Regions from separate parts of the Homo sapiens genome. Here region 1 is reported to be linked to region 2. Evidence: microRNA targets listed by miRTarBase, many of them from high-throughput screens and not tested one by one. Region 2 holds a microRNA gene; the other region holds the end of a gene's coding sequence.

What was found. Region 2 holds the annotated microRNA hsa-miR-4755-3p (AGCCAGGCUCUGAAGGGAAAGU, at 5,250-5,271, shown strand). A microRNA usually pairs through its seed, bases 2 to 8, with sites in the 3' UTR of a target mRNA and lowers its output. Matches are read on the target gene's strand: a 7mer-m8 pairs with bases 2 to 8, a 7mer-A1 pairs with bases 2 to 7 and ends in A, and an 8mer does both.
Region 1: the mRNA of BTBD1 is a reported target of hsa-miR-4755-3p. The part of its 3' UTR that is shown has no 7-base or 8-base seed match.

The regions. Positions count from the first base shown.
Region 1 is chr15:83,011,704-83,018,822 of GRCh38, reverse strand. It overlaps BTBD1 (BTB domain containing 1), which reads left to right. Exons shown (of 8, transcript NM_025238.4): 7 at 1-116; 8 at 598-2,400. The coding sequence ends at 756. It overlaps LOC124903542 (a long non-coding RNA gene), which reads right to left and starts at 7,082. Exons shown (of 2, transcript XR_007064742.1): 1 at 5,764-7,082. RefSeq lists an enhancer at 6,947-7,006.
Region 2 is chr20:34,043,913-34,051,031 of GRCh38, forward strand. It overlaps MIR4755 (microRNA 4755), which reads left to right and starts at 5,207; the gene lies at 5,207-5,278. All of the region lies in intron 2 of RALY (RALY heterogeneous nuclear ribonucleoprotein), which reads left to right. RefSeq lists an enhancer at 1,898-2,706.

The sequences.
Region 1 (7,119 bases), not on the chromosome of region 2:
GACAGAATGATACCGGCTTTAGTTGTGATGGGACAGCTAACACATTCAGGGTCATGTTCAAGGAACCCATAGAGATCCTGCCCAATGTGTGCTACACAGCATGTGCAACACTCAAAGTAAGAGTCATGCACTATGTTCCAGATGGTTTCCTCTTGAATGTTGCAGAATGTGTGTTTTAGAAGCTGAGAGTCACTGACAGCTGAGCCATTTATAAAGAGGGGGGAAAAGAAGCTGGGAGCTAAAATATTCCACTGCCTTCCGAAAAGAAGTACTTCTCCCCACAGCTCTGTTCTGAAAGAAATAGCTCTTCTTAAGAAGTAGCCCTTTGTTTCAGTAAGCAGTTGAATGTTTGGCAGAAAATAAAAGTTATTTTTGTAAAATCTTTTCACTATTCTCTAATAGCTGGGCTGTACATTCAGTATTTTTATTCATTAATTAGTTTTTTGGTAAAAACTTCATTTTTCTCTAAATGACAGCATAAAATTTTATATAGGAATGATAGTGAAATATAATGGAACATTAATCTAATTAAAACACCACATTAAACTGAGTGCTTATTAAATGAAAATTACTAAGGAACCTTTTGTTCTCATTTAGGGTCCAGATTCCCACTATGGCACAAAAGGATTGAAGAAAGTAGTGCATGAGACACCTGCTGCAAGCAAGACTGTTTTTTTCTTTTTTAGTTCCCCTGGCAATAATAATGGCACTTCAATAGAAGATGGACAAATTCCAGAAATCATATTTTATACATAATTTAGCATTATAATACATCTTGGCTAAATAATACCATACAATCTAGTGTCAAAAACATAAATGGCCACAAAAAAGTAGTTTGAGTGTTATGAATATTTAAAATTGTAAGATAAGAAACAGTTTCTTAGAGCAGATAGAAAAATGCTTATTTAAATCTTTGCATGATTTAAAAACAGATTTTCCATTTTCTTACAACTTTAAGAGAAAAGAACTGGGTTTAATGGTTTAAAAAAAAGCACAGCTTTTTCACCTTCATCTTGTATAATTTCATAGATTGGCTGACTTAGGGTCTTTCAATAGTTTGGGAATTGAAAGATTCTTGTTATATATAGCTAGTTTGGGTTTGTTTTTGTTTTAACTATTTTGAAGGTTAGGTGAGATGGGCAAATAGGCTTAACTATTTTGAAGGTTGGATGAAAAGAGATGGGTCAGTATTCCTACAGAATTCTTATTAACTCAAATAACTAAATTTCAGAAAATTAAGAAGCTGACTTTATATTTGGTGGTTTGAAGTATCTTGTTGTTAGCATTTGTAATAATGCTAAAAAAGGCCTAATAAAATGCCCAAGAAAATATTCAGTGCATTTATAGAGAAGGATATTTTGTAGTAGTATAGTAATGTGTTATGTAGTACAGTTTTAAAGCTATAAATGGAATTTTGTGTAAATTCACAAAAATGTGATATAAACAGGATCTAAGACTGGATTCCCTGTCACTAAACTGCACCACTATACCTGTCTCTCTGTGTGGGGGACACTGCTGATGATTCCCAAGATTGAGATGATGACGGTGATGACGACTGGGTGAACAGCCATCACTTCAACATTGTGATAATCCTTCACAGCAAGAAACCGAATAAAATACTAACATTTCTAACAACTGCTCTGACATTGTAAAGAGATCCAACAGAATCACTCCTGCTGAAAAATACGCTTTCTGCCACCTACACATTTCTATTTAGGAAGTAAAATTTGCTTCATGGTCATGACCCCATTAGTCAGTGTTACAGCTGTGTTGGGGATAGGAAGTATATCTGGCAGATTGATATTTATACACTTTTTTATAAAGCAGATTTTAAAATATAGTAACATCCATTTTTTTCCCTTGAAAGTGATTCTCTTATAAAAAATGAAAGTGGAGTTTAAGGTATATCAAATCGTTGTGGAAGGTGATTAAAAATCAAAATTCTTTTAAATATCAACTTAATTTTTTCTAAGTAAGATACAAAAAATTTTCATCTAAAGTAATATTTCACTTTATATTGTAAAGAAGGTAGGTATATTGGTGGCTGAGGTCTCTTGAAATTGCTAAAGGGAAATTTTTCTATGGTAATGCTCTTACGGATATAAACCTCAGTTAAATGGAATTATCTATGGGATGTGTGGTTCTGGTTAACTAAAAATTAACCAGTAAACACTCTGTAGTAACCATTACAGAAAATACTTCTGCCTTAAAAAATATGATATGCCAGAGATGAGTTAGTGTTTCTTGACGTTGGAGACCTTTTAAATGCCTCATCTGTTGTACTGAACAATTGAAACTGCATGCAGCCATAAAAGGGACAAGAAACAGAACTGTTTACTAACTTTGGGACATCCCCTGGAGTTTTTAAAAATAAATAAATATATATATATATAAAAAAAACTCTTTTATGTCATTTGCCTTTTTCTTCTAAAAGTGAATATAAACAGAATTTTGATTTGTTTTTTGTTTGTTTTTTGAGATGAAGCCTCGCTCTGTTGCCAAGGCTGGAGGGCAGTGGTGCAATCTCGGCTCACTGCATCCTCCACCTCCTGGATTCAAGCTATTATGCGGCCTCAGCCTCCAGAGTAGCTGGGATTACAGGTGCCCACCACCACGCCCAGCTAATTTTTGTATTTTTAGTAGAGATGGGGTTTCACTATGTTGGCCAGGCTGGTCTCGAACTCCTGACCTCAGCTGCCTTGGCCTCCCAGAGTGCTGGGATTGATTACAGGCGTGAGCCACCACGCCTGGCTGTCAACACCATTTTGGAACAAAGGTTCTAGTTAATTGAGGTTTAACTTAATGGGAGTAATGCAATACAAAATACAAATACCTCATTGCTGATTTAAACCAGTTCATAGGAACTGCAGTGATAACTGCCGCAGCCTTTTGTTTCTTGATCATTTCTTGTGGCCTCAGGTTTTTCTCCTGTTCTAATCAGGAGGTGGAGGTTGAATGTGGGAGAATCCAATAAATAATCTTATTTACTGTTAAGAGTGTGACTATCATCTTACAGCTGTTTATTAATAACTACCCAAGTGACTACTAGGCTCTGCAATGAGTACTTTACTACATTCTTACTTGTTTCTCACAGCATCAGTATGAGGGAAGTACCCATTTCACAGGCAAAGAAATTAAAAGGTCAGCTAGGCTGGGCACGGTGGCTCACACCTGTAATCCCAGCACTTTGAGAGGCTGAGACAGAAGGATCACTTGAGGCCAGGAGTTCAAGACCAGCCTGGGCAACATAGACCCTGTCTCTGAAAAATAAGAAAATTAGCTGGGTTGTGGTGGCACGTGCCTATAGTTGTAGCTGCTTGGGAGGTTGAGGGGAGGATTGCTTGAGCCCAGGGGTCCAAGATTACAGTGAGTTATGATTGCACCACTGTACTCCAGCCTGGGCGATAAAGCAAGATCCTGTCGGGGCAGGAAAAAAAAAGTTTATTAAGTGGTGGGAGGTGGAATTTAAACCCATTTACAGAGTTGAGAAAATATTTTGCTGGGTCCAAAAATAACATGTCACTATTCTCAAACTTTGCATTGAGACCCAGAAAGATACTTGACTAATCTATATTTACTGTAAAATATACTATTTTAAGAAAGTGTGATATTCCAGTATCTACCCAACAAATCGAGATTACTTGCATTATCAGAGTATTGATAGTAGTAACTAGTTTTTTTTTTAAATTATTTTTAACCTGGGAATAAACTTGTAAGACATTAAAGAGAGCAAGGTCTTCAATGTGATATGCGCAATGTGTTTGAAACATTGTCCCACTTTTTAGTGCTTCTTCAAACCACTTTCTACTTCCTGTTCTAGTCATCCAGATTCGAGACCTGGAATTATCCCCCAATTAGAAAAAACACATCCTTCACAAGAAGGATGGTACCATCGCAATCCCAGCCCCAACAACCAGCCCCAGAGCTACACTGTGTATTTATTCACATACACCTAGTTTATATGCTTTTAAAAATCCCTTTTCCTGTTTCTCCATTGCGAGTTTTTAAGTGGGACTCTATTTAAAACAAGATAAAATGAGGCCTGTAGTTGCGCAGCTACTGAGGAAGCTGAGGCAGGAGCATTGCTTGAATCCAAGAGCTTGAGACCAGCCTGAGCAACATGGCGAGATCCTGTCTCAATAAAATGTGAACCACCACAAACATTTACAAGGGGTTTCCTGCCATTTGAATCAGTCCCTGTGTTTTCCCTCACCATTAGGCAATATGTCTTCCCACTCTGCCTCTCTCTCCCTTCAGGAGGCAGGGATGTGGGCAGGAGCAACAAGTCAGGTGCACAGTTTGGTGGCACATGGGGCGGATGGCTTTTCTCCTCCCCACTGGTGCAATGAAGTCCTCATATCCCCTACTCCTGAGTCACGTGTGGGAAAGGCTGAATGGTTCACAGCAGAGCACCTCTTAGCTCTCCTCACCCATCTAGCCAGATGCCATCGTAACTCACCTTCACAGACGTCCCCTTTATTTCCATGACAACTGCCAAACCTCTAATTGAGGCTGACGTGACTTCACCCAAAGCAGATTCTACAAATGACTGCTATATAATGCTGGTTCAGCTTTTGTGCCTCAATTCTTAACTGATTTCAAAGAAGGGAAATATGGTTTTGGTTTAACACCTGGCTCACTTTCTTCTGCTCAAGCCTTTATACTGCATGGCCTCAGTGGCCATGTGGACAACCCAGCTACACCTAGGTTTCCAGTTTCTTCTTTACCTCCAGCAACCTTCACCATTCCTTATCATGGCCACACCATATACCCTATCATGATGTGGAATTGCTCTACATCTGAAATAGGAAATTCAGACATCCCACTCTCTGGCCACAACCTTTGGTGTTTCTTCCAGCTCTCACTCACATTCCAGTTACACCCGTTATTGAACCTAAGACTGCAGCCCCTTGTCCTCTCTGTTCTTTTCTTCTTTACTTCCTTCTTTACCCAGTTAGACTCTACTTTTGGTCTCCCTCAACCCCTCTCCACCTTTGGTCTTTAATAACTTTAACCATTTCATCAATAACCCTCAACCCACTTAAATATACCTGAATCAATCCAGTTGTCTGCCTTATCTTCAACTTCCTGACTGCTTTGGTAGTAGCACTGGGGCCAAAAAAAAATTTAATTAAAAAAAAAACTTCTTAGCTGGTGAATCCAGGCATCTAAAGTAACGTAACTATAGGCCAGGCGCTAGCTCACGCCTGTAATCCTAGCACTTTGGGAGGCCGAAGTGGGTGGATTGCCTGAGCTCAGGAGTTCGAGACCAGCCTGGGCGAAATGGCGAAACGCCCGTCTCTACTAAAAATACAAAAAATGGGTGTGGTGGCGCGCGCCTGTAGTCCCAGCTACTCTGGAGGCTGAGGCAGGGAGAATTGCTTGAACCTAGGAGGCGGAGGTTGCAGTGAGCCGAGATCCCGCCACTGCACTCCAGCCTGGGCGACAGGCTCTTCCCATCCCCCTGTCTCAAAAATAAACAAAAATAAAATAAGGTAACTATAGATTGGGATCATAGATGATTTCACGGTCTCCCTTAACTGTCTACCGCTGGGTGAGTTGCAATAGTCAGCCCTTTGCCATTCTCAAGAGTCCCAATATACCTTCAACACCTCCCCCGCCTTAGTTAATGAAAGAAATTCCACCTCCCATCACCAAACCTACAAACACAGCTACATGTCCACCTAAGCTTTCCCTTAGGAAGGAAGGAGTGTCTAAGGCCTCCTGTAGAGAACTCAATCTCTACTTGAGCTCAGATCCTACCTCTTCAGGAACCGTCCTCTGCTGTAACCTCTCTTCTCCTGGCTCTTTCCTACCAATCTTCAAATATGATAAAAATAAGTCTCTGAATGTCATGTGCCCCTCCAGATACCAATTGCTCCTTCACAGTGAAGTCACTGGATTATTCTCTACAATTATCTCCATTTCCTTCTCTCCACTAAAACTGCTGTAGCCCGGGTCACCACCACCACCCTGATTTCTAAATCTTGTGGCCACTTCTCAGTCGTTACATGTGACATGTTCTCTCCAGAGTGTTCATCACTGTTGATGTTCCCTCTTGAAGCGCCCTTCTTTAGCTGCCGTTACACCGTACTCCTACCTGGTCAGTGTCCTTTGGTGACTTCTCTACCTGCCCTTGCTGTTCTAACCTGGGCCCTCGTGCTCTTTACACACTCTCTCATCCATTTCCATAGCTTCAATTGCCATCTGCTTTCAGAAGATTCCAGAATCTCTATCACCAGCCTTGATTTCGCAAACTCCAGTCACATATATTCAGTTACCCCTTTAACATTTGTATTTGGATGTCCTGTGGGCATCTCAAACTCATTATGTCCAAAGCTGAACTCCTCACCTCGGCCTCCCAAACCTGTTCCTTGGGCCCCAAACCTGGGCATTTCCTTGACTTTTCCCCCTTATTCGCACATGCAGTCATTCCCAAGTTCTGATCATTTCAGTTCCTGAAGATCCTTGAAATGATCAGCGCTCCACCCTCCCTGCGGTTACTCTAGTTCAGGCCACCCTCTCCCATTTAGGGGGCGGATCTCCCTGTCTCTGGCTTTTCCTCTGTCGGCCACAGTGCAGCCGGTGTCTTTCTAAAACCCAGCAAATTGGGCTGCTAATAATCCCTTGCTTGAAAGCCTTCAGTGACTCCATGATCTTGCCTCTGCTGATTTGTTTCATGTCTCTCCATATCACATGTCGCAGTGTATTTCCTCTTCTTTTACATTGTGGGATCCGCTGCGCCTGGCACAAGGTAGGTGCGCCATCGATACGTGGAAGATTCACAAGGGCCAAGCCGCCACGAGGCTCTATATCGACTTGATGGCCACAGGCAGCGCGTGGGACTCTGCATCTGCTGCTTGGCTGTGGGAGCGAGAAGACACCTGGCCCTGTGCACTCCTTGCCGCGCTCTCCAATTCTGAGAAGTGACAATACCTTTCTTTCCCCGATTAGGAAAGAGGTGACACACCTTCCTATCAGCTGAGCAGGGTGGGCCAAGACACGGTGAGGCCTCAGCTCCGCAGCTCCACTTCCTGGGGCTCGGCCCGTTCCAGAACAAAAGAGACTCGCGCATGTTCTGCGGCCACGAGACTCGCTCCCGCCGGCCTTAAGGTGTCG
Region 2 (7,119 bases):
GAGAGTGCTTTAGGAGCTTGGAGGGGACCACTACCTGAGAGATGAAGGAATACCTCCCAGAAGAGGTAATATTTGAGTTGGACTTCAAAGATGAGGCATTTGGTAATTATGAAGGGGAGACTGTAACTTCCAAGCAGAAAGACCAGTGAGGACAGAGGCACAGAAGCTTATGTGGGTGTTTCAGAGAAGGGAAAACAGTCCATTGTAGCCAGAGTATAAGAGTTCAGGAATAGGACTGTGGTTAGGGTTAAAGTTACCAAAGTAAGTTAGGGTCAAACTCTGAAGGACATAATATTGGAGGCTATTGTGTATGTACTGTGTTTTACACATAGCATGCAACAATAATTGATTAATTAGGTGATATATATTTGTCTATTTGTACGAGTATGTAGCTGTGTGTTGGTATGTGCGTTACTTTTTTTTTTTTTCCGAGATGGGGTTTTTCTCTTATTGCCCAGACCGGAATGGCAATGGCGTGATTTTGGCTCACTGCAACCTCCTAGGTTCAAGTGATTCTTCTGCCTCAGCCTCCCTAGTAGCTGGGATTACAGGCATGCACCACCACACCCGGCTAATTTCGTATTTTTGGTAGAGGCGGAGTTTCTCCATGTTGGTCAGGCTGGTCTTGAACTCCTCACTTTAGGTGATCGGCCGACCTCAGGTGATCCGCCTGCCTCGGCCTCCCGAAGCTGGGATTACAGGCGTGAGCCACCACACCTGACGTGTGTTAACATTTGAAGAACCATTGAGGCCAAGCAAATATCAAAAATTGAAGCCAGAAGGACAGATTGGACCTAAGCTTACCTAGGCTTGGAGCTCCTGAGATGTTCCCCAGTTCCACAAGCCCGTAAGTTAGTCACAGAAAGCCAGCATTGGAAGGGACCTTAGGGACAGTGTTTATACTTACATACATTCAGTTATCCATTCAACAGATGTCTGATACTGCCCATAGAACTGGGATACAGTAATGAACAAAACAAGGACTGCCTTCATGGAACTTGTTATTTATTTATTTATTGAGACAGGGTTTCACTCTGTCACCCAGGCTGGAGTGCAGTGGCATGATCGTGGCTCACTGCAGCCTTGACCTGAGCTTAAGCAATCCTCCCACCTCAGCCTCCTGAGTAGCTGGGACTACAGGCATGCACCACCACACCTAGCTAATTAAAAATTTTTTTTTGTAGAGCCAGGGTCTCCCTACGTTGCCTAGGATGGTCTCAACATCTTGGGCTTAAGCGATCCTCCTGCCTCGGAGGCCTCCCAAAATGTTGGGATTACAGGTATGAGCCACTGTGCCCAGCGTAGAACTTATTTTAATGGGGAAAACAATGAAAAAATTAGTAAATCAATTATGTAATTCTATATGCATTATGAAGAAAGATAAGCAGGAGTAAAATGTTAAAAAGTGGCCAGAGTAGACCTCTCTAAGGAGGAAGATCATTACCAGCTGAGAGAAGGGCAGGTGAAAAGGCCCTGATGCAAGAGCATGTTTGTAGAATAATTAGAAGGCAGCCAGTGTGGCTGGAGTAGCAGCAGTAAAGAGGAAAGAGGCAGGAGATAAGGTTGGAGAGTGGGCAGCTGAGGCCAGAACATAGGGCCCCGAGGTCCATTGGGCTGATGAGGAAATGAAGTTGGCATGTAGCCAGGATCACACAGCAAGTTATGAGCCAGGCCAGGATTGGGAACGTTCTGGTTCAGGCTCCCTTCCTTTGCTCTCTGCCATCTTCTGTCTTTTGGCCAATATTAACTTGAATCCCATTTAATACCTTCATTTTCTTCTCCCTCATGTAGCTCTCTCCCATTTCTCAGACCTACATTTGCTCACATGATTTGGTAATAGAGTGATTTCTGGAAGGTCATGGCTAGAGTGGTCCTTGGACATCTTTTAGTTAAATCCCTGGTATTAGAAATCCACAGAGGGAAATTGGCCTGCTCAAGGCTACTTACCTAGTTAGGAGTAAAACTTGATTTCTTTTCCCCAGTTCTCTTGCCGTCTGGTGTCTGGCTCTTCATTTTCTGTGTGCCGTTCCCCTTTTCTTACAGTTTCCAGCGGAAGGGAATCAAGTTGTGACCCATGTAATTGACACAAGCAGCTAGCAGCATTCCAGGACCCCATGCCACCTGCCCTCACTTTAGCTTTTTGTTTGGTCTTTGTCATGTGAATTTACTGTTTGATTCAGGCCGGTGTCTTTGAACTACTACCCTCTGCAAAGACATGTTGCTAACTCTGCATCCTTGCTCATGCTATTATTTCCACACCTGAACTGGCAGCCTGCTCTTAACCACAGGTCTGTATCCAGGAGGCTTGTCTTTGAAGCCCAGCCCCAGTCTTATCTCCAAAGAAGCAATGTGGAAAGAGGATAAAGTTTGGAGTTGGATATAGTTGGATTTGAATCCCAGCTTTGGCACATGCTGGGACCAAAGAAATCTTAGACAAGTAACTTGACTTCTGGGAGTGGTTTTCCTGTTTGTAAATGAGGCTATTAACACCTGCTTCATGGGGTCATTGGAAGGATTATTTAAGGTATTGTATGTGTACATACTTTAAGCATTGGGTAAAGAGAAACTCTTATTCACTCCTCCTCAAAGGTGCCTTCTGAATGCCCTTTGCCTTTTTCGTAATACTTAATAGGTAACATTTCTTGGGAGGGTTTCTGTGTGACCGGCACTTTGCTAAGTGTCCAGTGCTTTTAAAAGGACTTACCACTGCAAGTGATTCCATAGTTGTCTCCAAATAAAAAGTTAATTTTTAAAAAGCACTGATCTCATTTTTTATATATTTGTTATTCTTGTTGTGTGTAGATAGAGGCCAGGTTAGGATTCAGTATATACCTGTGTTCCAGTTGTTGCTCTGTGATTTTCTAGCTGTGTAAACTTGGACAAGTCACTGGACCTCCACTCTTTTTTTTTTTTTTTTTTTTTTTGAGATGGAGTTTCGCTCTTGTTGCCCAGGCTGGAGTGCAATGGTGTGACCTCGGCTCACTGCAGCCTCCACCTCTTGGGTTGAAGCAATTCTCCTGCCTCAGCCTCCTGAGTAGCTGGGATTATAGGCATGTGCCACCATGCCTGACTAATTTTGTATTTTTAGTAGAGATGGGGTTTCTCCATGTTGGTCAGGCTGGTTTCGAACTACTGACCTCAGGTGATCCTCCCACCTCGGCCTCCCAAAGTGGGGGGATTACAGGTGTGAGCCACCATGCCTGGCCTTGACCTCTATTCTTAATGTGTTTTTCACACTAGAGCCCTAAAATTCAACACTAGTTACATTTGGAAACCTGACTTGCTAATCTGCTGACCTTGGAAAATGTGTCTTTGTTGAATACAGAGCAGTAGTACCTGGGCTGGCCCTGTGTGACTTAGAGCGGACAGTATGGGAGGTGGAGAACTGGGTGCATGGGAGCCATTAGATCAAGAATTGGAAATTCCTCACAAATAAAAGGTTTCTGGGGTAGGAGCAGGGGGCAGTGTTGATGGTGACTCTGCTTGGATTATCTTCTAGGGATGGAGGATTGCCAGCTCCATTGAATGGAAGGACTGGTGATGCGCAGCCACTCTTGCATGTGCCCGGGCAAAAGACAGTGTGTTGGTGGCAAATGCCTAATGTGTCTATGGCTGACCATGGGCCATCTCTGCCATTCAAGACATCAGCTCCTGGCAGAGTTGTATTGGTTTGATAGAGCTTTAGTCTTCGGAGTCGCACAGACCTGAGTTCAAATCCTTCTCTGCCATTTACTGTAATAATTGTGTTCCTTAGGCTGATCCTTTAGCTCTCAGATCCTCTTTTTCCTTTTCTCTAAAATGATGTGGTTGATATCTGCTTTTGAGGTTGTGAGGATTTAAAATAACAGGTAAATAGGTGCCACACAGTACCAGATACTTAGTTGGGTGAGTAGCCTGGTGATCTGTGGCTGTTAGCTCTTTGAAGGCCAGTATCCCTAGGAGATAGCAGCAACGTCAGCACTGCTCTGATTCCCTGACCAACCCCCAACCCCACCTTTGCCCTCAGAAATACCCTGGACCCTTGTTTCCTTCCTCAAGTTCAGACCCCAGAAATGTTGGGCAAGAAGGAGCCTCCAGGCCAGGCTTTATTGTGCCAGATGTTATATCTGAGTAAGCAGGATTGTTACACAGCAGAGATACAGGAGCAGAGCAGGTAGCTCAGGCAGCTGCTGATGAACAAAAGGCTTCTTCTCTCTGTTCCCAATAAATTGGTCCTTGGGGATCCTAGCTTTGAAATTCTAATTGACACAGGAAGGAAAAGATTCATTAGGCTCTGGACTCGTTAAAATGCTCTGCTGCTCACCTACGATTTATTCTTGGCACTTCATCAAGAGGAATTAAGTAAACCAATGGGCTGGGAGGCTCCTGACAGCAGAGTCGTGTGTCTCTCGTGCTCCTGGGGGGATGAGAGTGTTGGGTCTCCTATGCTATGGAGCATATAGCTGGCTTTGGAATCTCCTCATCCCTAGGACTTCACATGAGTCTAAGTCTCATATGCTTTTAACAATGGAGGGACCTTCTGAGATCATACTGTGTAACTCATTTATAGATGGTCCAAAGAAGAACTGGGACTTGCTCAAGATCACGAAACGCATTAGTAGTGGAGTTAGAATTAGAATCAGTCAGGCTGCATGACTTCCAGGTCAAGAATATTTTCTCTGCGGCCGGGCGTGGTGGCTCACGCCTGTAATCCCAGCACTTTGGGAGGCTGAGGCAGGTGGATCACGAGGTCAGGAGATCAAGACCATCCTGGCTAACACGGTGAAACTCCATCTCCACTAAAAATACAAAAAATTAGCCGGGCGTGGTGGCGGGCGCCTGTAGTCCCAGCTACTCGGGAAGCTGAGGCAGGAGAATGGCGTGAACCCTGGAGGCAGAGCTTGCAGTGAGCCGAGATCGCACCACTGCACTCTAGCCTGGGAGACAGCGAGACTCCGTCTCAAAAAAAAAAAAAAAAAATTTTCTCTGCATCACCTTTGGATTTCTACACCCAGTGTTTCATTCATTCAGCCTTCAACAGATACTTTTAACACATTCTGTGTGCCAGGACTCTGTGATAAACAAAACAGCCATGGAGGAAAGTAAATACCTGACCCAGTATTAGGAGAGATTAGAAAGGCCTCCAAGTCTGAGAGATGGATAGGAATTAGCTCAGCAAGGAGAGATGAGGAAGGTTATGGCTGAGGAACTGGCATCTATGAAAGCCAGATTCAGCTTTCCCTTCAGAGCCTGGCTTTGGCATCTATGAAAGCCAGGCTCTGAAGGGAAAGTTGAATCTTGCTAGAGTGGAGAATTGAGGAAGAGATGAGATGTTAAGGCAAGCCGAGTCTATGAGGTTTGGGCCACTGTATGGTTGTAAAGAACCCTGGATCTGGGATTAGGAGTCCTGAGTTCTAGATATGTTTCTGCTACCAATATGTTAGTCATCATTCTAGTAACACTTCACATCTTTTAGGTGTGCCATGATGGGCACTGGGGTACAAAAATGTGTAAGATGTATGTAGTCCCCTCCCTCAGAGATCTGTCAGTTTAATGAGGCAAGCAGGCTAATTAAGAACCCCTGTAGTAAAGGAACAGTTACCTCTGCTGTAAGAAGTCAGAATTGAGCTGTGTGTTACTTTAAGCACTTTCTCTGGGCTTTGATGATCTCACCTGTCAAATGGTAAATAACCACTGTCCTATGTAGCTGGTAAACTGATGAGAAGACAGACAACTTTGTAATGATTGGCGTTTGTTTGGCATTTTGTGGATTTCAAAACACTTTTGACATCATTAATTCATTGAACCTTAACTGCAATCTTATGACTTAGGAAATTTCCCCACAATGTACAGATGAGGAAACTGAGAGAGGTTGAGGCTTGTTCATAGTTTCACAGCTTTTGATTAACAAAAGTTAGGATTATAAATCCAAATCCCGTGCTCTTATTTTGAAAAGTATAAAGATGGCAACCTTTCTTTCTATCCCCTACTTAGTGGCAAATTATCCCCTTCCCCTTTTCACAGTCACCAGAAATGCAGAGAATGTCTGCTGTGTTTGAAAAGCAGATCTAAGCTGACTGGGGAGAAAGAAAGGAGCTTATTTCAGGTCTTCTTCAGGCTGGACTCTAAACTTTTAAGATCATGTGCGCCCGTGCTCCCATCAGCTCCTGCTGTTCCATCTCATGCCATTTACAGAGTGCCATTTACTGAGCCACTACTTCATTGGCTACTCATAGCAACTTGTGGGGTAGACAAAGTGCACTTTACAGATGGGCAAACTGAGGTCCAGAGTCCCTGAATTGTACATGTCAGAACCAGGATTGAATCTAGAAGTCTTGGGCTCCTGACACCAAACAGGTGCTCTTAACTTGCAGAATGTAGGTTCCTTTGATTCAGTTCGGTTCAAACAATTCTTGAATATAACCCATGTGCCAGAGACTTTGCTATGCAAGAGAGCCTCTAGTTAGGCTCAAACCGTCTTGGTCTAGTGCCTTACTTAAGAACAGGGACTTGTATTATTTACTTCTCTGTCCCCAGGCAGGACCTTGATCCAAAAATGCTTTGCTGTTGTTTTTGGCCTTAATCTGCCAGAAACTAGAGGGAGCAGATGGCCACAGCAATGTGGGTTATGAGGATGTGATATCAGGCAGGGTTGAAGGATGAATTGAGAGCCCTGCACCCAACTACTTCTGTGTCTGTGCCTAGGCCCTTGTCAGGGTAGTCTCTATCTGAGAGTGTAGCTGGTCAGCCTGGTCCCATTTCTCATTTCCAGTCACCTCCCCCTCTTGCCATCCCATATAATGGGGTTAGTCTCCTGGACAGATCTCATACAGAGGCTGCTGGGATCTGCTGTCCAAATGACCCTTTGGACCTATTTCCCAGCCATGTTCCAAGATGATGGTGAGGAGTCTAGCCCCACAGCCAGTATGCTATCTCTATTCAGATAACTCCCAGCTCACAGGCCTCCCACCAGGCTCTCACCCACTCTGATGTTTTCACTCCTGACTCCTAAGAAGCAGATTGGCAATTTAGTGTGAGTCTGTCAGACAGCCTAGAGAGTAATCAATACTGAGAGAAATGGACATATTTCCTGTTTATTCAAAATCCTGATGAAAATTTTAAGGAGCACTATTTGGGAAG